7 linked regions of the Homo sapiens genome follow. The protein of the gene in region 5 purifies or fractionates together with the protein of the main gene of each other region. This does not show direct contact. Each region holds a gene or a part of one and is shown on either strand. Other genes may lie near its edges.

Region 1 (4,565 bases), on a different chromosome or scaffold from region 5:
TTCTCAGGCATATTATACCCTCCCAATTTTTAATTCCTGGTGTATTTTCTACTCTTTCAATATTTAGCTGCTAATTTTCATGAAATATAGCGTTCTTATCCAGAATCCTCTTAGTATAGGATTTTAAATCTGAACTAGACCTTATGTATAAGTTAGTCCAATTTCCTCATTTCACAGATGATAAAATTGAGTTTCGAAAATCATTTAAGTTTTATCATTAAATATGTATGGTTTTTATGGTATTACAGTCAATTGTTGAGAGAAAAGAAATGGCATAGGACAGGGCACTTTTCTCTACCTTTAGAGAAAATCTGTCAGTTTTACTCATCTTTGTACATTGTGGCTTAAAGAGATAATTTATACTTCTTAATTTTGCCATCCTTAACTTTATCGTTTTTCTCTGTGGGAAGGGCTAAGAAGCTGCATATATCTCTGCTTAACTTTGTTGCTACTTGGTGTTCAGAAGTTGGAATGCTGGGAAATAATATACGCTTGATATTTGGTTTAAACATTTCTTGATTCAGAGAAGGTAGATGGTTATAGAGACTAATGAAAAGAACAGACTTTTATATTTGTCTTGACAAAGTTTTAAATATCCTTTGCAGAAAGAAAATTTGTAAAGTTTAAACATTTTTGGAAATATCTTTAATTTATTAAGGAAATCAATATGTATTTAGCATGTAGTCCATAGAACAGTTGGATACTATACAACAATGAATAAGCAAGCTAGAATCTCTGCGTTTATAGGGTTTCATAGCCTAGTGTAGAGGGGATCAACAGATAATTAAGCAATTATGATACAGTGATTCCCTGGACCAGCAGCCTTGGCATTACTTGGGACCCTACCTCAGATCTACTGAATCAGAAGTTCTTGCGGGTTATGTCAGCAATCAGTGTTTTACAAACTCTCAGGTAATTCTGATACAAGAAACCACTGTTTTCACTGTTGAGAACCAGAGTTGAGAGAGAGAGCACAGCACATTAAATAGAGCTGAAGCTGAGAGTTTGGAGTCATTAATATCTTGAGTTGAGGCTGGAGAGGCAGGTAAGTAAGGTCTGATAAGATGATTGAAAAGTTTAGACTTTTATCTAACGTGCACTCATAAGCCCTTAAAACATGTCCAGTGGGGAAACAGCTTGATCAACTTTGTCTTTTTTTTTTTTTTTTTTGAGATGGAGTTGGGGTCTTGCTTTGTTACTCAGGCTGGAGTGCAGTGGCATGATCTTGGCTCACTGCAACCTCCACCTCCCGGGTTCAAGCGATTCTCCTGCTTCAGCCTCCTGAGTAGCTGGGATTACAGGTGCCCACCACCATGTCTGACTAATTTCTGTATTTTTAGTAGAGAGGGGGTTTCACCATGTTGGCCAGGCTGGTCTCGAACTTCTGACCTCAAGTGATCCACCCACTTTGGCCTCCCAAAGTGCTGGGATTACAGATGTGAGCCACTGTGCCCTGGACTGTGATCTCTTTAAGAAGCAGACAAGTAAAGAGATAAATAATTATACAATGTATTAAGTATAATATTTGAAGCATAATCTAAAAGCTATTAAAGTCTAGATAAGGAAAGAGACTTTAGATGCCTGGGTAAGTCAGAAGACTAACCACTTAAGTATTTCACGTTGTTCTTGGAAGTTTTAGTGTACAACCTATGGATATTCAGTAGAATATTTGATCAAAAATAGTGGTTAAAAGTGTCATATGTTTTGGGTAATTTATTAGATTCAAAGCAAAATAAAAATGAAAAAGTAGAATGTGAACCGTCTTCAAGATATATTTTTTAATTTTAGGGGTCCCAGGTAAACTTAGAGCTTCAAGAAGAATGACTTACTCTATGTGATGTATACTTTTCTAATTTCTAGTTTGTTACTTATTTTCTAATTTTGTTTAAATATATTATTATATATAATTACATATTATAATTATATATAATTATATATTATATATTATGATAGATAAATAAACATATATTATTCTGTTTTAAACTGTCTCAATCCTTTTTAAAGTGATTATTATAAATATTGTAAATAATAAGCAAATATATTCTTATCAATGATGTTGAAGAATAAGTAAACATGTTATAAAGCATTTTCACTCCACACTTTAAAAAATATGCTGCATCTAATCTAAGTATATTTTACTTGTAGAACATTGTCAAAGGGTCACCTACTCTTTGGAGGTTACGTTGGGTCCTCCAAAAAGAAAAAAAATTCTCAAATGTCATAGATTGGTTGACAAGTCCTATTCTGAACTTAAGGAGTTGTGGGGGTAGGCAGTGCTGACCACAGGAATGTTGAGCAGCAAATGCTGGCTTTGGGCAAAAAACCTTTGATGCACAGTGACTTGTTTGAAATGTTTGGAATGATGGTCCTTGTGGGAACCTGCATTACAAAATGTCTGTCCCACATGGAACATACTGTGTGAGAATAGAAATGCAGAATAATAGGGCAATGATACCCTATCTAGAAACCAACTGTGTTTACAGATTCCCTAAATAACAGGTCAAATAGATTTTACTATGGTAAATATTCCAATTGCAATGTTCTGCAAAATTTTTGTCTGTCTCATGTATTTTAAGCAAGATTTCTTGGCCATGTGGCTTTTGTAGTAGACTTCAATGACATAAAACCACTAAGCAGAGACCTTGTCATTTATTTAACTCCAACTGCCTTTAATCTTAAGGACAGTAATATTGTGAGAAACCTTGGAGTTTCAACATAATCACAAGATGGTATGCAGGATCAAATGTTCAAATTATTTGCTTTTGTTTTTCTGTTGCATGTACTATAAAAGTCTTGTGTTATCTATATAAGCTTTAAATTTGGACCTGTGCCTTCTTTTTCATCATCTTTTCTCCTTTTTCTTTTAGTTCACAGCCATGAATGAACCACAGTGCTTCTACAACGAGTCCATTGCCTTCTTTTATAACCGAAGTGGAAAGCATCTTGCCACAGAATGGAACACAGTCAGCAAGCTGGTGATGGGACTTGGAATCACTGTTTGTATCTTCATCATGTTGGCCAACCTATTGGTCATGGTGGCAATCTATGTCAACCGCCGCTTCCATTTTCCTATTTATTACCTAATGGCTAATCTGGCTGCTGCAGACTTCTTTGCTGGGTTGGCCTACTTCTATCTCATGTTCAACACAGGACCCAATACTCGGAGACTGACTGTTAGCACATGGCTCCTTCGTCAGGGCCTCATTGACACCAGCCTGACGGCATCTGTGGCCAACTTACTGGCTATTGCAATCGAGAGGCACATTACGGTTTTCCGCATGCAGCTCCACACACGGATGAGCAACCGGCGGGTAGTGGTGGTCATTGTGGTCATCTGGACTATGGCCATCGTTATGGGTGCTATACCCAGTGTGGGCTGGAACTGTATCTGTGATATTGAAAATTGTTCCAACATGGCACCCCTCTACAGTGACTCTTACTTAGTCTTCTGGGCCATTTTCAACTTGGTGACCTTTGTGGTAATGGTGGTTCTCTATGCTCACATCTTTGGCTATGTTCGCCAGAGGACTATGAGAATGTCTCGGCATAGTTCTGGACCCCGGCGGAATCGGGATACCATGATGAGTCTTCTGAAGACTGTGGTCATTGTGCTTGGTAAGTTCTGTCTTGACTGTAACTTACTTTATAGATTCTCAGTGACTAACATAAACCACATTATTTTATGTCAGAGGTAACCAACAGTATGAATATTCACCAGGTAATTCACCAGGAATTACAAGGGGATGAGGCACCTTTATATTAAATGTCAGCTTATGAGTCTTCCTAAAATTATAGAATTAGCGTTAGGGAAACATGGGTCCCAGTGGTGCAGTATAAATGATGATGATGTAAAAGATGTCATTGAAGAGTTTGGCTATCTAATATTGAAAATACCAGAATTACCAGTCAAACTCATTCATTTTTCTTACAGCCTAAATTGTGAAACTTTTGCATTGTGGTTTCTGTATTACATATTTTCAGACAGAAAGTGCTTTTGTAGAATATGAATATGCTTCCATATATAGTTATTTTTGTTAGTCTATTCTGTAATTGTTGCTACATTATAGGTAGTATATCAAGGTTTTATATAGATTTACTGAACAAAACAGATTGGAATTAATGATATTCTCTGACAGTCATCTTCATGAAAACTTCCTTATTTTCTATTAATTTTCTATTTGTAGTAGTGGAGGTTAATTCATATTTCAAGGTGAAGAGCAAGATTTGTAGACTCAAATACCTTCTGCTTTTAAATAAGCATTGTTTTTCTTGGATGAAAAATTCATAGTAGTGATCAAGAAGAATATATTCACTTATGTGTGTAGAAGGTAGTTAAAGAGCACCTACTATGTTCTACGCTCTGTGCTGGCTCCATGAAAAGGACAGATACAGACATTTCCTTTGGAGCTGAGAGTAGAGTGAGAGTTTTTTAAAATAATTACCCAATGGAATTATACATTCTCCATAGACTATATTCAGGTTAACGTTTGATCACATTAAAAAATCTTTTTTGAAAACCTTTTATCATTTCATCTTTCCCTATGGAAATTGAAAAAAAACATTTT
Region 2 (4,565 bases), on a different chromosome or scaffold from region 5:
CCCAAAAGTGTTGGGAGTATAGGTGTAAGCCACCATGTCCAGCTTTTTGTTTGTTTTTTTGAGAAAGTTTTTTGATTGAAGATACAAAATTTCTTAAACTCCTGGGACACTGATAAATTCCTCATTTAAAAATGAGGAAAGATAAGCAAATTTAAACATAAAAGATAAGTAAATCACCCTTTAGAATAAGTACTGCTTTGGCAAGATTTGGTTTTCTTAGAATAGCTTTAGGAATTTTGCTTAACCCTATTGCTTTTAGCAGTTTGTTTTTCATTTCAATATCTGTTTTATTCTCTGCAGTTGACTTGCTGGTGAAGGTGGGGGAGGTTGTGGACAAGCTCTTTGATTTGGATGAGAAACTAATGTTAGAATGGGTCAGAAATGGGGCTGCTCAGCCTCTGGACCAACCCCAGGAAGAGTCTGAAGAGCAGCCAGTGTTTCGGCTTGTGCCCTGTATACTTGAAGCTGCCAAACAAGTACGGTAGGTGAGCTCTTTTGTGTAAAATGTTCTGGGAAAATGCAATTGCTAGAAGTATTCTCAGATATAAAAGTCTTCTTATATTCCTTACAACAGAATAAAGTACATAGTCACTCCTTGTTACGTTAATTCACTACTACTATTTGTGATGCAACCTGTATAGTGGTTACAAAGTTCCTGTTATATTATCATTTAGCTATAGGCTGTTACTCAACATTAACTGTGGTTTCTGTCTTACCATATTTTATGTAATTTAAATCAAAGAGAAAACATTTTCTTGTGCTTTATTTTACATTGAACATTTAACAACTTCATTAACGTTGCACATCATTTGCTTTTTTTTGCTCCTTGTGTTTATATGCCAGTCTTCAATAAGTGACCGATGTTGGGACTCTGATGTCTTGCCAAGAGTGATTACTAAGCCTTACAGGTCATTAAAACTGTTTATTGCTAATCACTAGAAAATTAATTTTTAAATTGATCTGCTTAGTGTTTTTCTTAGTGCATTCTTAGTGCTGAGTAAGCCACATCAAAACCTATTAATTTTGTGTCCTTTATCCAAGTGAGGGATAAATTCATCATCTTTCCCTAAACCTGCTTCATCAGTATTCTCAATCTCAGTAAATGATGTAATCATTATCCTATTTGGATAATGTAGAAGAAATGGAGAAGCCAATTACTGAATCTTTCCTGCCCCAGTATTTTCCCATTGCAGTCAACTCCCAACCCTTATTCCTGACATTTTCTGGGATTCCATCCATGCCAATCAAGCCATTATTGTTTCTCATCTGGAGAACTGCCACATTCTTTTACTTGAATTCCCTGCCTCTATGCTTGCTCTTCCCAAGCCTAGACTTTAAAGCTGTTTTTGCAAAGTACGCACTCATTTCACTCTCATGCTTCGGTCTTTTCAGTTGCCTTCCTTAGGATAAGGTCCAGAAAAACAAACAAACAAACACAGCTTGGGTACTACATACATCACCTGGGTGATGGGACCATCCATATTCCCAAACCTCAGCATCATGCATGTAACAACCCCCAACATGTACCTTCTGAATCCAAAATATAAATAAATAAAATAGGGGAAAAAAGAATGAAATAAATGAAAAATTCTCAAAAAAATAAAGTACAGCTTATGGACCCAGTAGCGCTATCCTTATTCCTTGTACTCTGCGTTTCAGTCATGTGAAGTTTGCGTCACTTCTTCAACTGAACCAGGCTGTCTTGTCTCCAGGCCCTTGCACAGTATGTTTCCTCCACCTCAGACACTTCTTTGCCCCTTCATGTTTCTGTGTAAACATCATTTTTCTTAAGATACCTTCCCTGACCCTGCAAACTAAGTCTCCTTGCTTTGTGAAGTTCCTAGCCCATAGTGCTACATTAGTACCACTTTATTGTAATTACCCCACTTGGAATCTTCTTTCCTTTTAGAGTATAAAGTTTATGAAGGTAGGGATAACATCTTATACATCTGTTTTCTCAACTCCTAACATAGTGCCTGAAATTTGTAAGTACTTAAATAAACATTTGCCAAACCATTGTTTTAATTGTTCACTGTCTTTTCACTTGTTTGGTTGAAGAACTAAGATTTTGAGTTTCCAAACTATTTAGATTTTTGAGAATCCAAACGGTTGATCATAAGAATTAGACTTACATGGTTTTAGTGTTCTCAGCTAGGGAGCTAGGTTAATCCTGAGACATTTTCAGAACATCATTATTGTTGATGCGTGATGCAGCGGACCTTAACGTTCATACTATAAAAATCGCAGTCTTTTTTTGTTCTGATTATTCAAGCAAACCAAAATGATAAAGTATCAACTGGTAGGTTTCTGCGTTGTTGCTTTTATGAGATAGAGCCAAAAAGTTTTTTTACTTCTTGTCCTGTGTGTGTTGATTATATTATATAATATTTGTTTATTTTTTGCTGTTTCCCCTATTAGAATATAAAAGCTCTAACGAACACAGAGACTTCGTTCCTTTCCTTGTTTTATCCTCAGCACCTTGAACAGTGGCTGGCAGAGTAATAAATATTTATTGAATGGAGGAATGATTGGAATCCCCTGGACAGTAAAGTTGTTGATTCAGTGCTTTTACTTTTCCTATTTAGTTCTGAAAATCCAGAATGGCTTGATGTTTACATGCACATTTTACAACTGCTTACTACAGTGGATGATGGAATTCAAGCAATTGGTAAGGTGGTTTATCGGGATGCACTACAGTTACTCATTTAATTGTTTGCTGATTTTAAAGTACTGCTTTATTTGTCCTCTTTATTAAGTACATTGTCCTGACACTGGAAAAGACATTTGGAATTTACTTTTTGACCTGGTCTGCCATGAATTCTGCCAGTCTGATGATCCACCCATCATTCTTCAAGAACAGAAAACAGTGCTAGCCTCTGTTTTTTCAGTGTTGTCTGCCATCTATGCCTCACAGACTGAGCAAGAGTATCTAAAGATAGAAAAAGGCAAGTACAGTTTCCCAGGCTCATACTGTTTTTCATTTCATTTATTTCTCCCTTTTAAAAAATGCTTTCATTTCCCTAATTATAAAAACATTACATGCTAAACTTCAAAAATTTATTTTATTATCATATTTATTTATTTTATTTTTTATTGATTTTTATTTTTTGGAAACAGAGTCTTGCTGTGTTGCACAGGCTGGAGTGCAGTGGTACAATCTTGGCTCAGTGTAACCTCTGCCTCCTGGGTTCAAGTGATTCTCGTGCCTCAGCCTCCCAAGTACCTGGGATTACAGGCGCACACCACTATGCCCAGCTAATTTTTGTATTTTTTCAGTAGAGACGGGTTTTTACCGTGTTGGCCAGGCTGGGCTCGAACTCCCGACCTCAGGTGATCCACCCACCTCGGCCTCCCAAAGTGCTGGGATTACAGGCGTGAGCCACCCCACCTGGCCTGTTTACTTATTTTAAAGCCAGAGTCTTATTTTGTTGCCCAGGCTGTAGTGCAGTGGCAGGATCATAGCTCACTGCAACCTTGAATTCCTGGGCTCAGGTGATTGTCTCACCTCAGCCTCCTGAGTAGCTGGGACTACAGGCACATGACGCCACACCTGGCTAGTTTTTAAATATTTATAGAGACAGGGTCTCACAATCTTGCCCAGGCTTGTCACAAACTCCTGGGCTCAAATGACCTTCCTGCCTTGCCTTCCAGAGTGCTGGGATTACAGGCATGAGCCACTGCACCCTGCCGAAAAATTTATAAAAAATATCAAGGAAACATGATGTTTGTAATCTTACCATCCCACACATGCACATATATTTAATTCTGCTTTTTAGCCAACATTTCATTTAGAAATATAAAATGAATATTTTCCTATATAAACACATATTCTTTCACAGAATTGTTTTTATGACCACAATTAAATTCATGATTCATTTAGAATTTATTCTCGTGTCACATGTGAAGTGTGGCTTTAATTTTTTTTCCCCCTTTGATAACTTTGGTTCTAGTGGTATCAGTTTTTTCCCAGAGGGCTACCCAGTTATCTCAACATCATTTAGTGAATAATCCAGCTTACCCACACTGATTTGAAATTTCATCATTATTTTTAAAATTCCCCTATATATTCTGTTCAGTTCCATTGCTGTATTCATATATTAGTAGCCATAGTGTTTTTAAATATTAAGGTTTTATGTTTTAATACCTAATAAGGCAAATTCCTCTTCATTCTAAGTTTTCAGAATGTTTTTAACTATTTTTATCACTAACTTTGAGTTCCAAAAACAAAAAATTTCTGACATTTTTGTTGACATCGTGTTAACTTGATAGGATATGTTATGCCCTTTTATTTGTTCAGGTCTTTTTTGTGTCCCTCAGTAATGGTTTCTTCATATGGATCTTGGATATTTCTTATTAGTTTCATTCCTAGATAATTGTATCTTTTGGGTTTACTATTGTCTGTGACATATTTTCTTCCACTGATTATTATTGTTGGAATATATGAAGGCTATTGATTTTGGTATATTAACTTTGTATCCTGTAACCTTACCAAATTCTTAATATTTTTAGTAGTCGTTCCAGTAATAATCTTTGGGCTTTATCTGATAGTGCTTTGGCTTAAGTTA
Region 3 (3,694 bases), on a different chromosome or scaffold from region 5:
CTCAGCTCCCCTTGAGATGCCTGGATCTTCACACCCCCAACTCCTTAGCTACTAAGGAATGTGCCCCTCACAGGGCTGACCTACCCACAGCTGCCTCTCCCACACGTGACCCTTACCTACACTCTCTGGGGACCCCCAGTGTTGCGCCTTTGTCTCCTTGCCTTTGTCCTTACCCTAGAACCTCCTGTACCATGTGGTCGGCTGGACCGACTGGAACCCATCATTGTAGACATCACCAAGCACACGTTTTACAAACAGCCCATGTTCTACCACCTTGGCCACTTCAGGTGAGTGGAGGGCGGGCACCCCCATTCCATACCAGGCCTATCATCTCCTACATCGGATGGCTTACATCACTCTACACCACGAGGGAGCAGGAAGGTGTTCAGGGTGGAACCTCGGAAGAGGCACACCCATCCCCTTTTGCGCCATGGAGGCAGGAAGTGACTAGGTAGCAACAGAAAACCCCAATGCCTGAGGCTGGACTGCGATGCAGAAAAGCAGGGTCAGTGCCCAGCAGCATGGCTCCAGGCCTAGAGAGCCAGGGCAGAGCCTTTGCAGGAGTTATGGGGTGGGTCCGTGGGTGGGCGACTTCTTAGATGAGGGTTTCATGGGAGGTACCCCGAGGGACTCTGACCATCTGTTCCCACATTCAGCAAGTTCATTCCTGAGGGCTCCCAGAGAGTGGGGCTGGTTGCCAGTCAGAAGAACGACCCGGACGCAGTGGCACTGATGCATCCCGATGGCTCTGCTGTTGTGGTCGTGCTAAACCGGTGAGGGCAATGGTGAGGTCTGGGAAGTGGGCTGAAGACAGCGTTGGGGGCCTTGGCAGGATCACACTCTCAGCTTCTCCTCCCTGCTCCCTAGCTCCTCTAAGGATGTGCCTCTTACCATCAAGGATCCTGCTGTGGGCTTCCTGGAGACAATCTCACCTGGCTACTCCATTCACACCTACCTGTGGCGTCGCCAGTGATGGAGCAGATACTCAAGGAGGCACTGGGCTCAGCCTGGGCATTAAAGGGACAGAGTCAGCTCACACGCTGTCTGTGACTAAAGAGGGCACAGCAGGGCCAGTGTGAGCTTACAGCGACGTAAGCCCAGGGGCAATGGTTTGGGTGACTCACTTTCCCCTCTAGGTGGTGCCAGGGGCTGGAGGCCCCTAGAAAAAGATCAGTAAGCCCCAGTGTCCCCCCAGCCCCCATGCTTATGTGAACATGCGCTGTGTGCTGCTTGCTTTGGAAACTGGGCCTGGGTCCAGGCCTAGGGTGAGCTCACTGTCCGTACAAACACAAGATCAGGGCTGAGGGTAAGGAAAAGAAGAGACTAGGAAAGCTGGGCCCAAAACTGGAGACTGTTTGTCTTTCCTGGAGATGCAGAACTGGGCCCGTGGAGCAGCAGTGTCAGCATCAGGGCGGAAGCCTTAAAGCAGCAGCGGGTGTGCCCAGGCACCCAGATGATTCCTATGGCACCAGCCAGGAAAAATGGCAGCTCTTAAAGGAGAAAATGTTTGAGCCCAGTCAGTGTGAGTGGCTTTATTCTGGGTGGCAGCACCCCGTGTCCGGCTGTACCAACAACGAGGAGGCACGGGGGCCTCTGGAATGCATGAGAGTAGAAAAACCAGTCTTGGGAGCGTGAGGACAAATCATTCCTCTTCATCCTCCTCAGCCATGCCCAGGGTCCGGGTGCCTGGGGCCCGAGCAGGCGTTGCCCGCTGGATGGAGACAATGCCGCTGAGCAAGGCGTAGCCCACCATGGCTGCCAGTCCTGCCAGCACAGATAGGATCTGGTTCCGGCGCCGGTATGGCTCCTCCTCAGTCTCTGGGCCTGCTGGTGTCTGGCGTTGCGGTGGTACCTCAGCTGAGGGTCAAGGAAGGAAGGTGTGTTAGGAGAACTAGTTCTTGGATCCCTGCCCACTCTCCCCAGGGCTGCCCCTCCCATCTGCCCCTTACCTCCATCCCAGGGGAAGTAGAGACTGAGAATGTGGGTACAATAGGCACAGAGGTTGTGCAGCCCACGCAGGTGGACCTGCAGCTTCCCACTGGGCAGCTTTGCCTGCAGCAGCAGGGCCAAGTAGCTGAAGACGAAGGCGTCCAAGGAGGCAGGGCTGGAGCAGAGAGAGAAGGGTGGGATGGAGGAGAACCACTGGGGTAGAAGGGGTAAAGATGGAGCTGGAGGAAGAGTCAGCCTTGGGAGGTGGGCTCTGGGCAGCAGGCGGCCACCAGGGAAGGACAGGACACACAGTTCTAGACCTGGTATGGGGAGAGATCCCCAGGTGGCGCCAGCCTGGCCCTGAATAGGGCTCTATCCCAGGGCTGCATAAAGGGCACATTCAGTGCCCCACAGCTCTTCAGGCCCCTCCTGTGCCTGGCTGCCCTCCCACCCTACCCTTTTGTACCTCTGAGAAGGCTCTGGCCCCCACACAGTCACACTGTCACTAGGGCCAGTTTCTATCCCAGGGACCTCCTATCCAGAGCCTGAGCCAGCCCCAGCCCCAGCCCCAGCTCCAGCTGCTCCATCTGAACCTGTATCTTCTTCCAAGCCACCCATTACCCTCTTGGAGTCAGACTCACGCATCTCCAAAGAAGAACTTTTGAGAGCCCAGGCGCTGAGAGAGCAGGGTCAGACACTCCCGAGCCTCTCGGTACAGCTGTAGGGGCGACACAGGTAGGCTTGCAGCTGTGGGAACAGTGCCACCTCCCCACCTAAGCACTCCCATTCCTGGCCAGCATCCTTGGGGCTCATCTCATACAATAGCCCCCGGTCTCAGAGCTACCTCCTTCTCCAGCTCTTCCTCGTCCTCAGGCCTGTGCTCCCCAGTCAGCAGCTGTAGCCGTTCCATGTACTGCCGCTGCATGCGGCCAGGCAGGAAGAAGTTGAGGGGAAAGGGCATAGCCTCTGCATACCACTTCCGGGTCACTTCCACGTAGTTCTTGGTGTCTATCCAAAAAGTATGTACCTGGATTGGGTGGGCAGGAAGAAACAGGTAGGTCTGAGCCAGTGCACCTGTCTGATTCAAGGTGGGCTTCTGACCCCCATGCTTTCCTGAGCCTGTGTGTGGGTCTGTGTGTTCCCGAACCCTCCCCGGCTGGCCATGGATGCTGGGAGGTCTGGGCACACTCACCAGCACCGGGAGCAACTTCTCCTCCAGGAGAGACATGAAGGCCAGGGTGTCTGCCCCTTGCCGAGCTGACAGATCATAATCAGCATTGTACTTCTGTGGAGGAAATATCCATGGCGTGGACACTAGGGAGCTGCAAGGGCACTTCACCAGGGAGGAAGGAGTCCTGTCTGGTACCCCCCTCACTGGCCTCTGAGTGCAGTGGAGGTACAGCAAGGAACTTTTCCTGCCAAGGCCCCCTTGCCTGGGCCCAGCCAGTAGCCTGTTGCTGTTGGCGAAAAGCCTGGGCCTTGGAGCCTCCTGGCCGTGAAGGTCCAGCGCCCAATGCAGGGAAGGAAGGAAGGCTCCGCCGCAAACTAGGAGCAGCTCCCAGAATTTCCATGGAAAGCTGGAACAACGCCCGCTGACGGCAACTTTCTAACAGTAACTTCCCCGACCCAGACACCACAAAGCTAGCACAACGGAGCTCAGATGCAGGCTAGGACTCGGTCCATGCCTCAGGAACCAGAGAAAGCCATCCTCACACTCCCTGGATCCAGGGAACCCACGCCCAGGGCCCCCCAGCTTGTTCCCTCA
Region 4 (4,565 bases), on a different chromosome or scaffold from region 5:
ATCAGTTTAGCTCAGGAGTTCGAGATCAGCTTAGGCAACATGGTGAGACCCTGTCTCTACAGAAAATACAAAAATTAGCCGGAGGGGAGGCATGTGCCTGTAGTCCCAGCTACTCGGGAGGCTACAGCAGGAGGATCGCATGAGCCTGGGAGGCAGAGGTTGTAGTTAGCCAAGATGACACCATTGCATTCCAGCCTGGGTGACAGGAGTGAAATCCTGTCTCAAAAAAAAAAAAAGAAATATATATATACACATATATATATATATACACACACACACACACACACACACACACGTATATATACACACTTTAATATATATAAATATATTTATATGTATATAAAACACATACATATATATATGTAAAACCTTTTCCCAAGACCTTGACTCTCTGTGTATGTGTGTGTTTGTGTGTATGTGTGTGGGTGGGTGTGAGTGGGTGTGTTTTGGAGTTGAAGGAGATGGCTAGATGATCATAGGACAAAAATTACTCTAAAGAACTCAGTTACATACTTCATCTTTCTTGTTTTAGTCTAAAGTTCAACAAGGATATGTACCAACTGATAAATTTTATCATAGAAAGTGACTAGGGAGACGATACCTTTATCAAGTTACTGGTTTTCTGCAGTTAATTTTATTTAAGTCCAACAGGTGTTGCTATTGGCCATTTACTGGTAAATAGTCATAGCTTTATGACATATAACACTTCTTTTTTTGAAATAATAATTATTATAATTGAATCAGAATAATAACAATGTGTTTCTTCCTTGTAGGGTTATTCCCATTGTGTTGATGTTTATATAAAGCAGTGCCAGGAGGTAACATAACAGTACACTTTGTTGGATATTATTTTATGCTAATTGTTGTTTTAAAATCATGTAGAAATTATATGTTCACTGTATAAAATGTCTCTGCTGTTTAGGGTGCTTATTTGAGAAATGATATATTTGAAGACGCTGGAATACTCTGTCAAAGAGTGAACAAACAAGTTGGAGATATCTTCAGTAATCCAGAAACAGTCCTGGCTAAACTTATTCAAAATGTATTTGAAATCAAACTACAGGTAATTTTAAATAGTAACAAATTAAATAGTTCTTAAAGCAATATGTAATTTTTTCCCTATATTTTAAAAGTATTTTTAAAATTTAGTTTACTTATGTAATGACCTTAGAAATAGTAATCTAGTTAAGGAGAAAGGAATCCTCATGCTTTTTAAAAAATGTTTTGTATTCACCAAGAAGAAAGTGCTAATCAATAAGTATCATCAGAGAACATGCTTGAAATTTGTGTAGTATTCGTAGTAGTAGTATAATATATTGTGGTAAGATAGCCTTGAAGATTTTTCTTTTTTTTTGGTCCCTGCCTTCACCAATAGATGTCATTTGTGAAACTGAACAAGAATTACAAGAGCAGTCTGTAGAATTTTTAATAATATGGTACTAACCTGAAAAGGGAAAACACAGAAATTTAATTTACCCCCATATCACTGTACTTTCAGATAACATTTCCTAAGCTGTTTACAACTGGATTAAACAACATTCAATAAATGTTTGCTTTTTTTTTTTTTTAACACAATTCAGGAATTTTGATAGTATTGTCATTCTCTAGAAGTGGGGATGTAATGTACAGCATTTCACACATTTACTGTCTAAGAAACCCTGTTTTGGAGTAATGCCTATAGACATCTGAAGGAACACTAGTGTTACCTGGAACTCAGTTTGGGAGATGCTGCCTTAAGGAATTGACTCTATTGTTTGTACTCTCAGTTTTGTTTTTTTGATGCACCTCACAGAGCAGAATAGGCCAATTTAACAGAAAAGGTATTATTCCTAAGACTGATAAAGATCCTCTACAGGTAAATATGAGAAGTGGTAAAATGTAAAAACCTGTTTTAAAATATTTTATGATTGGTTTGTTTTCTGTAATTGCCTTTTTGATTGGATTGTAAGTCAGAAAGGTTCAAAACTGTGGAGTGAATTTTAAAAGAAAAATATCTTGAGAAGTTGTAGAATTTAATATTTACCTAATTAACAGAATGTTAACCTTTTTCTTTTAGAGTTTTGTGAAAGAGCAGTTAGAAGAATGTAGGAAGTCCGATGCAGAGCAATATCTCAAAAATCTCTATGATCTGTATACAAGGTAAATTTTTAATGATTAGAAAATAATAGATAACAGATTTTTTAAATTTTTTTGATAAAAACAAGGAAGTATTCAGGTATTTTTGAATAAGTTTGTCACCAGTTTACCTTTTAGCATTAAATGCTTAGCTGTATAGACTAGTTATATTGTACAAGACTGTATTGTACAACATTCTTAATACATTAACGTCAGGAATTGGATGTTATGCTTTATTTTTTCTCTAAGCATTAGTGTAATTACATTTATCTGCAGTCAAAACTTTAGAAACTGCAAAAGGAAGTGATGTAATCTTAACAAATGACAATTTCAGCTCTAAATCTTCTGTAGGAATTTGTCTTGTGCTTTTGTAAATGTCAGTGTTACTCTTAGAGATTGTCTCAGAAGCTTCATATGGAGTCTTGTGGGGTTTTTTTTTTCCTTGACTTTTCCCAACCCTATTACTCTTCTTCAGTGTCTTCATTTTGGGAGAAGGTTTTTCCAAAGTTACCGTAATGAGGAAGTCCATCTCAACAACAACACTGTTATGACCCTATCTTCAGCAATGGGAAATAGAAAATTAGAGGGAAAGTCCACAAGGACAAAACAAAAGAGGGTGAACAGACAGTAGATCTTTCAGTACTCTGTTTTGGGTCCCATGTGATGAATGGCATTAGACATACTTGAGGCCAATCTGCCACTGTCGCCATTTCTGGACTAGTTAATTGCCTCACAAGTTCTTTTCCTAGGAATTTATAACAGTTCTCAAAACCGTAAAGTTGTTCGTAATATTTCACTGTATTTATATGTAACCCTGTAGAGTTGATCTCTGCATCATAAGTACTCTCCCAGAGTTTAAGAAATGGTGGCTTAACATAAGTCATGAAAGTCACGTTGTAAAAATTTGTATTCCTTAATATTGTTACTATACCTAAAATGTATATTAATCTTTTTCTCCCCCTTTTTCATGAAAAGAACCACCAATCTTTCCAGCAAGCTGATGGAGTTTAATTTAGGTACTGATAAACAGACTTTCTTGTCTAAGCTTATCAAATCCATTTTCATTTCCTATTTGGAGAACTATATTGAGGTGGAGACTGGATATTTGAAAAGCAGAAGTGCTATGATCCTACAGCGCTATTATGATTCGAAAAACCATCAAAAGAGATCCATTGGCACAGGAGGGTGAGTATTTTTGTTAAATACTTCTGTTAAAACTGAAGACATTAATAACTTCATTATATTTGGGCAAATTATCAAATGTTGACTATCATTAGAATTTTCTGTGAAGAGTTCTTTTAATCCAGATTGTTATATTATTGATCAAATCTTGTTCTTAAACCACATGTTGAAATGACCTAACATAACATGATTGAAATGTAAGCCGGGCGTGGTAACTCACTCCTGTAATCGCAGCACTTTGGGAGGCCGAGATGGGCTGATCACCTGAGGTCTGGAGTTCGAGACCAGCCTGGCCAACGTGGTGAAACCCCATCTCTACTAAAAACACAAAAATTAGCTGGGCGTGGTGGCAGACACCTGTAATCCCAGCCATTAAGGAGGCTGAAGCAGGAGAATCACTTGAACCTGGGAGACGGAGGTTGCAGTGAGCCAAGATTACGCCACTGCACTCCAGCCTGGGCGACACAGCAAGACTCCGTGTCAAAAAAAAAAAAAAAAGTAAAGTAGATATTTGTCAATTAAAAAATAATGTTTTAAAACTATCGAGCAGAACACTAGTAATATAAAAAGTTCCATAGTTTCTTTCATTTTTTTTTTTCTCGATAGAATAAGTTCCAGGTTATTGACCAGGAAACGCATCTTTTTTTTGTTACTGTTGCAGGTGTGAAAAAAATAGAAAATAGTTTGTAGTTTAAGTACCTTGAATTGATGAGTTTTGTTCAGAGACTTTAGCATAAAAAACTATTAAATTAATACCTTAATGCCTACAATTATTTACAGACTAGAAGAAAATAACTTGCTCCAAGAATAGTTGGCATCTTAGCTACCAGGCTTTAACTGCCTGGAACCCAGATTCTAAAAAGAGACAGAATGACATTGGTGGACTCAAAGTCCAGAATCCCCACATGTATATATCGAAACCAGTTTTCTTATTTCCCATTTTGTTGTGTATTAAATAATGATTAGAGAGAGTTAAAATTAGTAGTAAGAGGTAATACCTGAAAGGTAGTAGCAAGGAAGGGAAGAGGAAAACTAATGAATAATAGGAATTTGTGTGTGTGTTTGTGTGTGTGTGTGTGTGTGTTTACGGTAGTCTCAAGTTACATATCCTAAGAGCAAAAAAAGTTTAACCTTCCAAAGATACCCCATATAAGTGTTTCAGGTGACCCTCAGTAATTAAGAATAGCTAAATTATGTTTAATATATCTTCTTTAATATCATGAATAAATGTGCATAATCTTAAAATGACTATATTTTAAAATTGTTAA
Region 5 (4,565 bases):
GTAGCTTCATCACACCACTGAAGATACAGCTAGGAACAAAAGAACAGTCACTAAACTTTAGAATACCAAAGAGGAAAAGGATAAAGAAAGTTATTTTTTGCCAAGGCAATTTTTTATAAGCTAATTTCATAAGTCACACATGTAGCGGTTTGTTTTTCTTAGCTGCTATCCACAAAAATGTAATGATGGTACGTTATAAAAATATTTTTTATTCACACAATACATGTCTAAATACCATTAAAGTGTTTTACAGATATTATTTAAGCAAATTTCAAAAGGCCAAAGTAAAATAATGAGTAGGCAAGAATCACTCCTTTTTATAAACAGAAAAACTAGAACTGAAAATGTCAGGTAACTTGTTCAAAGGTAATAATCAAATAATTTAGGTAGCCAACTCAACTCTAGAATTACTTGACTATTTTCCCATTTCTCAATAACTTTAACCCATAAGAAAGATTATATTTTATGAGAATGAGAGAAAAAGCTTATTTTCAAGCCGTATCATCTAGTATTTTACCTCTGCAGTCAACAGCATATTGTTGACTAATTCCATGTAAGCTTTCATTTCTGCTTTTTGGACTTCCTCCAGCCCATCACTAAGAGAATGGCCCTAAAGGGAATTTAAAAAAATTTAAAAGAACATCATATTAAATATACAAAAACTTTCAGTTATCTCACTAACAAATAACGTAACATGCAACTATACAATGAATTAAACGTCCAAAATGCCCCCTAAAAATTATTTTATATAAAAGCATAAATAATACTCTGCTATCACTACAAAATATTAGTATGTACTTACTTGTCATTATACAAATGTATCTTTCAATAGAGAAAATTACACTATCAACTACTTCACAAAAGAAGAAAACAGAATGGTCAGCAAACCTTGTTTAAGAGATTAACCTTATTTAGAAATAAAGGAAATGCCAAAAGACTGACATGTGCTGTTTATAAAGTGGTCAAAGATGAAAAAAATACGTTTGTAAAGATATGGGGGGAGAAACCCACTTATTTTAAAATTCTAATACTCTATAGTTACTAGGAGATACATAAAATGATATAACCTTTAGTTCAATCTGGCAATCTATTACAAGATTTAAAAAGTACATAACCTATGACATCCTAATACCACTCTCAGGAATTTATCCTAAGGTACCAATACCAACCTTAGGAATTTATACAAAGATGTATATATAAGAAAATTTATCTTAGTACTCTATAAAAACAAAAAATTGGCCATGACCTAAAAGCCCAACAATAAACTTGAGTAAATAAAATTCTAATTTATCCAATACAGGGGGAGGGTGTTGAAGAAAAAAAAAATAATATATATATATATTTTGGAGATATATATATATCTCCAATACAGCAGAATACAACAATGTGAAAGGATGATATATACCTACAGCTATTAATATGGAAGAATTTCCAAACATATTTATGATTTTAAAAGGTATGTTGCAAAATAATACACACTAGTATGATCTAGGTTTTTCTATATATTCAAAAAGTCTGGAATGATTTTTCAGAAACACTAATGGGAGTTGTTCCTTAATAACTATTAAAATCTAAACTGAATAAATGAAAAGCAGAATCATTCAAATGGATAAATACATTCAACTTCAAACAAATCCTGTATCTCCCTTTTCAAAGGTCAGCCAGACACTTCAAAACCTAATAGTTTTTCATTTATGACCACAGTTGTAGTAAGCATAAGTTAGAAAATTATCTACCATTTTGTAAAGATCAAACCATCTCTTTAGACTAGATATTAAAATTACATACCTTTAATAAATTTGACATTAATAGAGGAAAAAAAGCTACCTCTTTTGCCATTATATCATGAAAAAATACTAACTTACACTTCAGAAATATTTTCCAGTAGTTTGCATTGGCATTTTATAAAACTAGGTTGAAATCAATGTAAATGTTAAGACACATTAAAGAATGATGAATGACTTGGTAACTGATCAAATACATTTAATATCTTTTTATTACCTTGGCTTTAACAAATTGGACTATTGGACCAAGTTCTGATACTACTTGATTTCCCACATGAATAAAAGGTACTTTACCTGTTGAGAGAAAAAAAAAGTATTTATAAAAATACTTCCAGTATGTTAAAGTTTGTGATAATTAAAAAAAATTAACACAAAACTCAGGTATTTATAAATAGGGATTTCATAAAACTGTAACTTTTGAAAATTTTTGTCAGATGTGTATATTAAATTCTGTAAGTTTTTAAACTGATTACTAACCAACTTTAGAAAAAAAGAACAGGTAAATTCATTTCTAGAGTTCTCACTTAGATATAATAACAGATCACATAACATTCTCTTTTCAGAGCCAACACAAACATATCACCATATAGCAGCAAACACTAATTATCCAAATTACATGAACCAAGCCAGGACACTGGTACATGACCACTGATATATTTCAAAGAAATGTAAGCTTTCTTTTCAGAGTACAGTGAATCAATCTATATTGTAAACTACATTTAAAAAACCTTTTTACATCTTTTAAGTCTTTGATACCCATTGAGATCAACATTTTAAGCAAGTAATTGTATATCAATAAATCTCTTTAACTCAAAATAGCAAGAATTAAAAGAATTAACAATCTTTGAAGGCATGCTAGTTGGTGAGTTGTAATACAGAGTATGTTCCCAACATGTGGGAAAAAATAATAGTATGTTTATAAAAACTAGCTTCTATAGATAAATGTCACATTAAAAAAGAAATATTTCACTTTAACAAATACTAATACTTGGAATTATTAGAGATGAGAGAACAAAATAATCTCCAAATAGCAAGAAGGGTCTACTCCAAATGCTAAAGAATGAAACCTGCTGTCACACCTAGTTCAAATAGAGTTCACACTAACAGCAGGCTTCTTCCTGTTCCTTTTCAATAGATTCACTCCTCTCTGGCTCCGTCAGCCTGGGGGTAATGGATGAAGTACAGAGGCCTAACAAAAGCTTCAACTGCATCCATAGGACAACATGCATTACAAAGAAAAGGCAGGCCTTTTGGAACACAACAACTCAATAGATGTATTGAGAAGATATTTCCCTGTTGCCAATTCTGCATTCCTTCCTTCTACTGCTTTATAAATCTTGCAAAAAAAAATTTTTTTATCTGGTTAAGCATTAGGCCACATTGTTTTCTTAACTCGGGATAAAATCTTTGTAACTACTATACTACCAGAATTATTACAGGTCCCCTGAGATCAAATGATCTGAGAATGAAAACTATTTAGTACCTAGACAAACAGTATTTGGGGGTATAATATTTTTAGAGCAAAGCATATTCCTTGTTTTTAATGACCAGTTTCAGGTTCTTGGAAAAAAGGGTTTGTATTTTTTTTCTTTTCTTAAAAATACATTGAGCGTTGTCAATTCTGAAGCAAAAAGAAGTGTGGATAGTCAACTGAGTATTAATCTTATATATCTCTAAATATAAAGAGATATATAAAAACAAACACAACAAATTAGAAGTGAATAATGTTTTCTGTCACTAGCCTGCTTAATGAAAATGGAGCCAATGTTATATCCTTATTATTGCAGGTATCAGGCAAAAACACAGTAAGACAGTTATTTTCTGGTGCGAATCAAAGGTCATATAAGAAAACTGAGGGCTTTGTTTACCGTCTTAGACAGAATAATCACTTTTAAAATTTTTATTCTAAAGAAAGCAAGAATATGTTGCCAAACAAGTTGGCAGATTCAAAGAATGCAAGAAATAGGACCTTGGATGTCATCTAATCCGGCTACCTTATATTACAGATGAAGTCACTGAGGCTCAGAGAAGTGAAATTTCTCAAGGAAATAGTTAATATGTGACAAAGTCACAGAAGGATTAGTTAAAGATTTCCTAACTCTTTAGGAAATAAGAGTTTAAGTCAACTGGTCTTCTGACTAGTCCATGCTCTCTGCTTTAAAAATCTACCGCAAGATCAAAGAAGCAAATACAATAAAAAACATTTCCCTATCACCTCAAATCATTAAATGAAAGAGAATACCAATCTGAGATATGATAAAGTTTAAATATCTTAGTAGAAAGTGCCATTTTCATCTACCTATAGGAGACTCCTATGAAAGAATGTATATTTTTGTATGTCTCTAGAATATTTATGTTTGTCTTTCGCGCAATCTAATAAAAAGAAAATAGGTATCTACCTAAATGACACTAAGTATAGTAATTTTAGGAAACAGGTAGATAAACTATATTGATATCTCACTTGCCAAAGATCTGAACTTTAGCATTAGATTACTAACCTTCTAACCTTTTTACATAAATATACAAACTGTTTGTATGACTACATAGAGGAAAAGGATGGACAAAACACAACATAACTTATTTCACCAGAACTCTGTAGTTCCTAAAATCTACGTATAAAACCAACACAAAAATGAGTCAATGAATGCCCTCCAAGAATCTAAAATATGTTTACATTTACAAGCCTAGAAATTATTTTATGGAAATGTTTTCTAAATGTATATTCATAAACCTCTAAAACCAGGTATTTATATAAAAGAACATTATGTACAGAAGGGGTGT
Region 6 (4,565 bases), about 90 Mb from region 5:
ATTTAAAGTGACTCTAACTTGATTGTTTACTTGTAGAAATAATACTGGCTCAGCCGGGTGCAGTGGTTCATGCCTGTAATCGCGGCACTTTGGGAGGCCAAGGTGGGTGGATCCCTTGTGGTCAGGAGTTCGAGACCAGCCTGGCCAATATGGCGAAACCCCCGTCTCTTCTAAAAATACAAAAATTAGCTGGGTGTGGTGGCTCGCACCTGTAATCCCAGCTACTCGGAAGGCTGAGGCAGGAGAACCACTTGAACCAGGGAGGCAGAGGTTGCAGTGAGCTAAGATCGTGCCACTGCATTCCAGCTTGGGCGATGGAGCAAGACTGTCTCAAAAAAAAAAAAAAAATACTGACAGTCATTGGCTTTAGGATATTGAATATAAGTCATGCCAGCTGACCTTTAGAATGGAGCTTAGGTCCTCATTCCCCTCATCAGAACTTCTAGGAAAGGAGTGATCGAGCAGAGTTCCTTTATGTTGAGCAGATGCAGAAGTGTAAGAAAGGAATAAGCTACTGGTATCCAGGATTATCTAGCTCATCTTTCCAGTGGAGCTGAGCCTCTGTCCCTTAAAGCAGTGCTGAACGAATCTTTGTTGGAGTCTGAGTATATTTTTCTCTGCTATTGTTGTTAAGTGGTTGGTGGTTAAAAAACAGGTGAAATAGCTTCTTTAGCCCTCTGTCTGGGCACACCATTTATTAAATAGGTGTCCACAGGCTGATTTGGGAACCTAACTACTCATCCCACCTTTGTGTCTTCTTAGCAGTACTACTGGCCACTCCTTCCTTCTTGAAACTATTTCTTCCCTAGGCTCCCTGACACCATACTCTTCTGGCCTTTCTCTTACCTTGCTGGCCACTCCTTAACCTCCTTTTCTGCTCAGCCTCTCAAATGGTGGCATACCTGGCATTAGTTCTGAAACGTTTTCTCCATCTGAACTGTCTCTAAGTGTTCTTGTTGAGTCCCGTGACTTGGAAGTTTAAATACCATCTATACCTGATAAATGTCTATCTCCAGCTCTGACCTCTGCCTTGGCTTCAGGTTCCTATCCAGCAGCCTACCTGGTATCTCCAGCTTGATTTTCAGTAGTCATTTCATGCTTATCATGCTCCAAACAGATTTATTTATTCTCTCCAACCTGTCTTCCAGCCCCTCAACTTGTTTCTCTCTAAATAAACTGAGTTGAACAATCTGCTCAGCTATTCCAGCCCAAATCATGCTTTGTTGTTCCTCCATCAACTCATATTCAGTTGCCCCACAGATCCTACCAGTTTTGCATCCAACATAAATCCCAAATCTGTCCACTCCATTACTACCACCTTAGCCCAAGCTGTCATCTTAACAGCTTCCACTATTTTTTCTTTTTCTTTCTTTTTTTTTTTTTTTTTTTGAGACAGAGTCTGTCTTTGTGGCCCAGGGTAGAGTGCAGTAGTGCAATCTTGGCTCATTGCAACCTCTGCCTCCCAGGTTCAAGTGATTCTTGTGCCTCTCAGCCTCCTGAGTAGCTAGACTTACAGGTGCATGCCACCACATGTGGCTAATTTTTGTATTTTTAGTAGAGACGGGGTTTTGCCATGTTGGCCAGGCTGGTCTCGAACTCCTGACCTCAAGTGATCCACCTGCCTTGGCCTCCCACGGCGCCAGAATTACAGGCATGAGGTACCATGCCCGGCCTTCCCCAAGGAATTTAAACACCAAAGTGCTGGGATTACAGGTGTGAGCCACCATGCCCAGCCAATTTGCCCTTTCTTCATACCCTTCTTTCTGTGTCTATTTACGCAGGCAAATAAAACATAGTCGAATCAGACACTACACTGCTGGAAATCCTCCATGGACTACCCATTTCATTTAATATAATTCCAAATTCTTAACCAGTACCCAAAAGGCTTCTTGATCACTGCATGCCATGAGCCATTTCACTGCTCCAGGCACCCTGGTATTTTTTGTCTGTACCTTGACTATATCTTTTGTCTTGGGACCTTTATGTTTTCTCTGCCTAGTACATTGTTCTATCCTCTCTGTTTAAACCTTGAGCTCTAAGCTTAAGTTTTAAGCCTAGATGTCACTTTGTTAGCAAGACTGAGATTTCCTATCCCTTCAGTCCAAAGTAGAGTCTCTGTATTACTTTCTGTTATGTTGCCCTGTTTATTTTAAATGTAAGGTGGGGGAAAAGGAGGTTGAAGGGGTGTTGATGCTTCACAACAGGTCCTTGCCTGCTCAGTCATATGTAGAAATATGTATCACAATCTCAGATGTCTTTTTTGTTTACTGTCTGCTGCCTCCATTGAGATATACACTGTGAGAGCAAGAAGTTCGTCTGCCCTAAGCACCATTGGATCCGTACAGATAGTAGGCACTGCCTGGCACACAGGGCTAGTAGCACTTCATAAATACTTATGCACTGACTGAATGGATTCATTGATTTATTATATTGTTTCTGAGAAAAAATAAGTTCTGGATTTCAGGTAATCAGTGTTAAGTAATTTGTAAAGTGACCTATGGCTATTTGTTAGGCAAGGTATATTTTTTGGTTTTTTTTGGCCCATGTTGAATTTAAATTCATTTAAAAATAAGCAGTTTTCTTTGTTTAGAAGTCTATGTCAAGTCTATGTCAATAACTACCAGATACTTACTAATTTTCTTTTCTTTTTTCTTTTTGAGATGGAGTCTTGCTCTGTCGCCCAGGCTGGAGTGCAGCAGCGCAATCTTGGCTCACGGCAAGCTCTGCCTCCTCGGTTCACGCCATTCTCCTGCCTCAGCCTCCCGAGTAGCTGGGACTACAGGCACCCGCCACCACACCCGGCTAATTTTTTTTTTGTATTTTTAGTAGAGATGGGGTTTCACCATTTTAGTCAGGATAGTCTCAATCTCCTGACCTCATGAGCCACCTGCCTCAGCCTCCCAAAGTGCTGGGATTACAGGTGTGAGCCACCACGCCCGGCCAACTAATTTTCTTAATGATTCTTCAAAGTAGGCATTATTACTCACAAATGAGAAAGTGGAGATTTGAGAAGATAAATCATTTCCCCAAGGTCACACAGATGGTTGTAGTAAAGCTACGCTTGATTCCAAGTATATAGTTACTTTTTTTCATATCCTGGATTTAGTTATTTCTCAGAGGAGCATGTGATTCAGGAAATGGCAGTGTTTTATATGAGAGGCAGCCTGGTGATGTGGAAAAACCACAAGTTTGGGGGTGAGAGAGACCTTTGTTTGAAATCTGGTTTTTGCCACAGCTGTGTGATCTTGTTTGAATCACCTTCCAGGGTTTAGTTTTCCGTTTCACATGAGAAGTAGAAGTGTACACATGCCTGGCACATTAGAGGCGTTCAGGATATGGAAGCTGCTGTTGTCATGGTTGATAGTGGTCTTTCTGTTTTCCTAAAAGTATATGTGGAGAATTGAAAACTAATAACTACTATGTTTGGTTTCACAGATAGAAGAAGTCAGAGATGCCATGGAAAATGAAATGAGAACCCAGCTTCGCCGACAGGCAGCTGCCCACACTGATCACTTGCGAGATGTCCTTAGGGTACAAGAACAGGAATTGAAGTCTGAATTTGAGCAGGTGAGGACCTGGACTCCCTTCAGCCACACCCCTCTTCCTGACAGGATTAAGAGACTCTCCTTTCCTTTTAATGTACTCTGAGGATGTCGAAGATTTGGAAATCTCCTTGTATGTCTACAAAACTGCTTCTTTTTACATAATGGTGTACCTGTGTGTTCATGATCAGATGTGTTTTTAAAATATATATTCTAGTCATTTGGAATCTTCAGAGCTTTAAGGAGAGTTGGTAAAGGGGATTTCAGGAATGCAGACAGTAATATTTGACATGTGTATCTTCCTCCTATAGATGGCATGGTACTGCTTAGATTTTTATAACTGAGGTAATTTCCCAGAGAAGTTTTGAAATCCCAGTAAATTATCAGGATGCCTGTAATCATAGTTTCTATTCAAGAAATCATTTACAGTAATATTAACTTGTTACTTTGTCTTGCAAGAAGATATTGAGGTTTTCTAAGTAAAATCTTCCAGAGAATCGCGATGTATGTCAGTATGAAAAGGTATTTTAAATTCTATTTGGATATTTTTCTGAGAAAAATTAATGTATAAGCTCTTAAATACAAGATATTAGAATATAATTTAATCTAATTATTATGTTTAGGTTTGCAGTACAGATAATTTACTTTCTAAAGCTGACAATTTGTGGCTGAGCACAGTGGCTAACACCTATAATCCCAGCAATTTGGGAGGCTGAGGCGGGTGGATCGCTTGAGGACAAGAGTTCAAGACCAGCCTGCCCAACATGGCGAAACCCTGTCTCTATTAAAAATACAAAAATTACCTGGGCATGGTGGTGCATGCATGTAATCCCAGCCACTCCGGAGGCTGAGGCATGAGAATCGTTTGAATCTGGGAGGTGGAGGTTGCAGTGAGCTGAGGTTGTGCCACTGCACTCCAGCCTGGATGACAGAGCAAGATTCTGTCTCAAAAATAAAATACAGTTGGCAGTTTGTTTCTGACTTTAACAGCCTTCTCTCTTCTCTTGGTATGCCTCCTCTAAT
Region 7 (4,565 bases), on a different chromosome or scaffold from region 5:
CTCACAGATGAGGAAATTGAGTCTTGGAGAGAGTAGGGACTGGTGGGAGGCCCCACAGCTCAGAAGGAACTGTGCAGAACTGAAATCTGCCTCTGGGTGTGAGCTAGAAAGAAGTGGGTGAGTAGAGACTTCTGTGTGAGCAGGTCATTTGAGCAAGGGACTGGGCCCTGAGGGTGCTAGAAGCCAGTGTGAGGTGGGGGTGGAGAGGGGCCTCCACACTAGGAGGCTTGGAGCCTGTGATGGGTTGGGATTTTATCTCAATGCCACGTGTTGTCACGGAGGGGCTTTTGACAGGGGCGTGATCCCTTCGCTCTGTCTCTGATGTGTGGTCAGCCTCGGGCAAGTCAGTTTGCTTCACTGGGACTCAATTTCCCCCAAATGCAAAATGTTGGGATGTAACAGCCCTAACTTCATAGGCCTGCTGGGTAAAGGCTGCCGCCAGGGCCTGGCATATGTCAGTCTTTACTATGGCAATGAATTCAGCTGTTCTTTTTTTTTTTTTTTAACAAGCAATCAAGTGTAGACACTATATACAGTTACTACGCAGGCTGCCTGGGTTCAAATCCCAGCCCTGACACTGACTAGCTCCATGACCTGGGGCAAGTCACTCAGCCTTTCTGTGCCTCAGCATCCCCATAGGAAAATGGGTTGTGGTGGTGCACACCTGTAATCCCTGCACTTTGGGAGGCTGATCTGAGAGGACTGCTTTGAGCTCAGGAGTTCAAGATCAGACTGGGCAATGTAGCAAGATCCCATCTCTACTAAAAATTTAAAAAATGAGGTTGGGTGTGGTGGCTCATGCCTGTAGTCCCAGCACTTTGGGAGGCCGAGACGGGTGGATCACCTGAGGTCAGGAGTTTGAGACCATCCTGGCCAACATGGTGAAACCCCGCCTCTACTAAAAATACAAAAATTAGCTGGGTGTGGTGGCACGTGCCTGTAGTCCTAGCTACTCAGGAGGCTGAGGCAGGAGAATCACTTGAACCTGGGAGATGGAGATTGCAGTGAGCCAAGATCGCGCCACAGCACTCCTGCCTGGGCGACACAGCGAGACTCTGGCTCAAAAAGATAAAAATAACAATAATTTGTTATTGACAAAATAATTTTGTGTAGGCATGGTGGCATTAGCCTATAGTCCCAGCTACTCAGAAGGCTGAGATGGGAGGATTGCTTGAGCCCAGGAGATGTAGGTTACAATGAGCTAAGATCGTGTCACTGCACTCCAGCCTGGGCGACAGAGCAAGACCCCATCTCAAAAAAAAAAAAAAAAAAAAGAAAGAAAGAAAGAAAGAAAAAAAAAAGAAAAGAAAAACAACAGGTTGTTGGGAAGACTTAATGAGTTGATATCATAAGGTCCCAAGGCCTTGGCTGGTGCATACAAATGCTAAGTGCTGGTAATGATGATTAATGTTGATGTTGGCTTTTCTTGTCTGGATTTTCATTTCTGATTTTAGTGTGAACTGAATCCTTTATGGAATTAGATGAGGCTCACAGACATGAAAAATACATCCCACCACCCAACTTCCCCTTTTTTCCTGCTGTCCTGCATCAGGGAATGGCAGCTTGAAGTTGGCATTTGGGAAGATTCATTCATTCATCCCACAGTTAGTTTCTTTATCTATTTATTTGTGTGGCCATTCATTCCACATGCCTGCAGACACACTTACAGTGGATAAGTCTAAGAGCTGTTCCTGGCCCCTCGTTCCCCAGCTGCATGTCCTCTCTGGTCCTCATTTTGCACATCTGTAAAATGGAGCTAATTACCAGGGACAGGCGCAGTGGCTCATGCCTGTAATCCCAGCACTTTGGGAGGCCGAGGCGGGTGGATCACAAGGTCAGGAGATAGAGACCGTCCTGGCCAACATGGTGAAATCTCATCTCTACTAAAAATACAAAAAATTAACTGGGCATGGTGGCACACGCCTGTATTCCCAGGTACTTGGGAGGCTGAAGCAGGAGAATCGCTTGAACCTGGGAGGCAGAGGTTGCGGTGAGCTGAGACTGCACCATTGCACTCTAGCCTGGGTGACAGAGCAAGACTTTTTTCTTTTTTAAAACAAACAAACAAAAAAACTACCTCCTAGGAGAGTTAGAAGGGTCCACTGAATTTATATCATGCCTCCCCAACATGTTTTCACCATGCCACGCAGTAAGAAACACATTTTTACATCCTGATGTAGCCCATAGCTCTGTAGTCTGGGGCAAACTGCTGCATTGCTCAAAGCCTCAGTTTCCCCATCTGTAAAACAGGGAGAATAACAGTCCCACCCTCAGAGTGTGGGGATGCAGTGGGATTACATGTATATGGATGCAAAAAAAAAAAAAAACAAACAAAAATTAGCATAACCTTTACTTACTGAGAGATGTACTGTGATAGTCTGTAATCGAATCTATTTCATACTTAAAAAAAAAACATGGTTTTCCAACTCACTAATTTAATTTTATGAGGCACTCATGAGTAATACACTGGTGTCTGAAAAAGTCTGGGTTAGACATGTGGGGTGCTTAGAATAGTGCCTGGTACATAGCAGGCACTCAATACAAATGCACTATTATGATTAGCATTTCTGCATGCATTTGTGCATTTATTCAACAAATACGCTTGTTGAGCTCCCGCCAGATACACGTGTCCTCCAGGGCTCCCCCAGAGGGTCCCAGCCTGCTCCACTCACCTGGGTACAGCGGCTCCTGGTCACTCCTGAGGAGAACAGCCACTGCAGAGAAGGGAGGGGTGAGGGCAGGCAGGCTGGAGGCTGCAGGGGCCAGGGGAGGTCAGAGGCACAGGAACCGCTCTCACCAATGGCCCAGGATGCCGCCCCGATGGCTGTCAGAAGTAGCAGGGTCCCCGCAGTGAGAGCTGCCACCTTGGGTCTGGAGCAGCATGGCACAGTCCGGCCACCTGCAACAGACACCATGCTGGGGCCACAGCCAGGCCTGTCCTCATTGCGGCAGGGTCTGGGCCCGAGGCCAGCTCTGCCCTGCCCCCAGGGCTAACTTATTATGCCCAAGCATGTCCTCCCCAGGCCCAGTTTCCCGGGGCCAGCAGTTGACAGGGCTGTTCCTCCCCTGCCGTGTGAACAACCAGGTGCCCAGCTCCCCCAGGGTTCCAGCTGGGAGGGGGGCATGGCCGGGCCACCTGCCACGGTCTCCACCTCCGCCCTGCACTTTCCTGGCACTTAGGGAATGTCTCCTCCCCAGTGACACTGTGCTTTTGTATTTCTGTCTTTGCTTTGGGCCATCTCTTCTTGGGACTGTGACCCCCAACCTTTGCCCTCTTGGTAGCTCTCTTCCCTGCCGCTGGCATTTCCTCGCTGCCTCAGTCGTTTCTGCTGTTCTAGATGCTTTGCCCCTAGATACCCCCTAAATCAGACCTCTCTCATGGTACCCAGTTGCAAGATCAAATTTGCCCCTCCACTTGAAAATCTGCCAGCCTCATTTTATTTTATGTATTAATTTTTTTAGCGACGTGGTCTTGCTATGTTGCCCAGGCTGGTCTCAAACTCCTGGGCTGAAGCGATCTTCCTTCCTCAGCCTCCCAAAATGCTGAGATTACAGGAGTGAGCCACTGCGTCTGGCCAGCCTCATTTAAAAATATTGACCCTACCCCTTCCTAGCTGGAACCTAAGGCAGGTGCCATCATATCTTTGAGCCTCAACTTTCTTATCTATTAAATGGGCATCCACTGAGCACCTACTTCTAAAAATAATAATTTAAAGTTATTTTCAAGAAGAAGAAGAATAGCTCAAATTGTATTGATGCCTCCAGGTGCTAAGCACCGTTCTAAATACATCAGCTCATTTAGTCCTTATTTCAATCCCACAACTATGATTCCTGTTTTTGAGATAGCTCAGAGAAGTGGGGTCACGTGCCCACAGTGACAGCCTGGAAGAGGCAGAGCAGCGTCCAGAACCCTGGGCAGGTTTGATGCCAGGTCCCCTGTGTACAGCCACGAAGCCATCCTGGCTCTCACTGTGCGGAAGTGCCTGGCACATAGCAAGTTCTCTATAAATGCTTTATAAATCATCAGAGATGTGTGGGCCTGAGCAACTCCCCTCCCCTCTCTGAGCCTCAGCCTCAGTTTTTTTCTTTTCCTTCCTTCCTTCCTTTTCTTTCTTTCTTTCTTTCTTTCTTTCTTTCTTTCTTTCTTTCTTTCTTTCTTTTTCTCTCTCTCTCTCTTTCTTTTTCTTTTTTTTTTTTTTGAGACAGGGTTTCACTGTGCTGCCCAGGCTGGAGTGCAGCGGCGCGATCATGGCACACTGCAGTCTCAAGCGCTCAGGCTCAGGTAATTCTGAGCCTCCCGAGTAGCTGGGATTATAGGCGCACACCACCACACATGGCTAATTTTTGTATTTTTTGTATTGACGGGGTTTGCCATGTTGACCAGGCTGGTCGTGAACTCCCAGACTCAAGTTATCTGCTTGTCTCAGCCTCCCAAACAAAGTGTTGGAATTGCAGGCGTGAGCCACCGCGCCTGACCCTCAGTTTTTTCATCAGCCTAAAGAAGCTTTATTTGTTTACCATCCTACTGAACATCCGCTGTGTGCCTGGCACCTTTCTAGGTTCCG

What was found.
Region 1: the proteins of MTX2 (region 5) and LPAR1 purify together in Homo sapiens (co-immunoprecipitation; one large-scale study listed by IntAct). This does not show direct contact.
Region 2: the proteins of MTX2 (region 5) and SAAL1 purify together in Homo sapiens (co-immunoprecipitation; one large-scale study listed by IntAct). This does not show direct contact.
Region 3: the proteins of MTX2 (region 5) and MTX1 fractionate together in Homo sapiens (co-fractionation; one study listed by IntAct). This does not show direct contact.
Region 4: the proteins of MTX2 (region 5) and EXOC5 purify together in Homo sapiens (affinity purification with mass spectrometry; one large-scale study listed by BioGRID and IntAct). This does not show direct contact.
Region 6: the proteins of MTX2 (region 5) and IMMT purify together in Homo sapiens (co-immunoprecipitation; 6 studies listed by BioGRID and IntAct, with this or other methods). This does not show direct contact.
Region 7: the proteins of MTX2 (region 5) and HPN purify together in Homo sapiens (co-immunoprecipitation; one large-scale study listed by IntAct). This does not show direct contact.

Annotation. Positions count from the first base shown.
Region 1 is NC_000009.12:110,940,471-110,945,035, reverse strand, and holds part of LPAR1 (lysophosphatidic acid receptor 1), read left to right. Parts: intron 1-2,867; coding exon 2,868-3,615; coding exon of another isoform or gene 3,616-3,695; exon of another isoform or gene 3,696-4,565.
Region 2 is NC_000011.10:18,085,246-18,089,810, reverse strand, and holds part of SAAL1 (protein SAAL1), read left to right. Parts: intron 1-300; coding exon 301-481; intron 482-2,585; coding exon 2,586-2,668; intron 2,669-2,756; coding exon 2,757-2,945; intron 2,946-4,565. UniProt on the Homo sapiens protein: Plays a role in promoting the proliferation of synovial fibroblasts in response to pro-inflammatory stimuli.
Region 3 is NC_000001.11:155,211,647-155,215,340, reverse strand, and holds the end of MTX1 (metaxin-1), read right to left. Parts: intron 3,215-3,694; coding exon 3,122-3,214; intron 2,957-3,121; coding exon 2,774-2,956; intron 2,648-2,773; coding exon 2,571-2,647; intron 2,105-2,570; coding exon 1,950-2,104; intron 1,858-1,949; coding exon 1,643-1,857; 3' UTR 1,518-1,642; downstream 1-1,517. UniProt on the Homo sapiens protein: Involved in transport of proteins into the mitochondrion. Essential for embryonic development.
Region 4 is NC_000014.9:57,230,241-57,234,805, reverse strand, and holds part of EXOC5 (exocyst complex component 5), read left to right. Parts: intron 1-773; coding exon 774-818; intron 819-922; coding exon 923-1,063; intron 1,064-2,056; coding exon 2,057-2,139; intron 2,140-3,090; coding exon 3,091-3,300; intron 3,301-4,565. UniProt on the Homo sapiens protein: Component of the exocyst complex involved in the docking of exocytic vesicles with fusion sites on the plasma membrane.
Region 5 is NC_000002.12:176,324,338-176,328,902, reverse strand, and holds part of MTX2 (metaxin-2), read right to left. Parts: intron 2,079-4,565; coding exon 2,002-2,078; intron 611-2,001; coding exon 518-610; intron 30-517; coding exon 1-29. UniProt on the Homo sapiens protein: Involved in transport of proteins into the mitochondrion.
Region 6 is NC_000002.12:86,146,704-86,151,268, reverse strand, and holds part of IMMT (MICOS complex subunit MIC60), read left to right. Parts: intron 1-3,435; coding exon 3,436-3,567; intron 3,568-4,565. UniProt on the Homo sapiens protein: Component of the MICOS complex, a large protein complex of the mitochondrial inner membrane that plays crucial roles in the maintenance of crista junctions, inner membrane architecture, and formation of contact sites to the outer membrane.
Region 7 is NC_000019.10:35,047,624-35,052,188, reverse strand, and holds part of HPN (serine protease hepsin precursor), read right to left. Parts: intron 2,927-4,565; exon of another isoform or gene 2,900-2,926; coding exon 2,798-2,899; intron 2,715-2,797; coding exon 2,673-2,714; intron 1,744-2,672; coding exon of another isoform or gene 1,668-1,743; intron 1-1,667. UniProt on the Homo sapiens protein: Serine protease that cleaves extracellular substrates, and contributes to the proteolytic processing of growth factors, such as HGF and MST1/HGFL. Plays a role in cell growth and maintenance of cell morphology.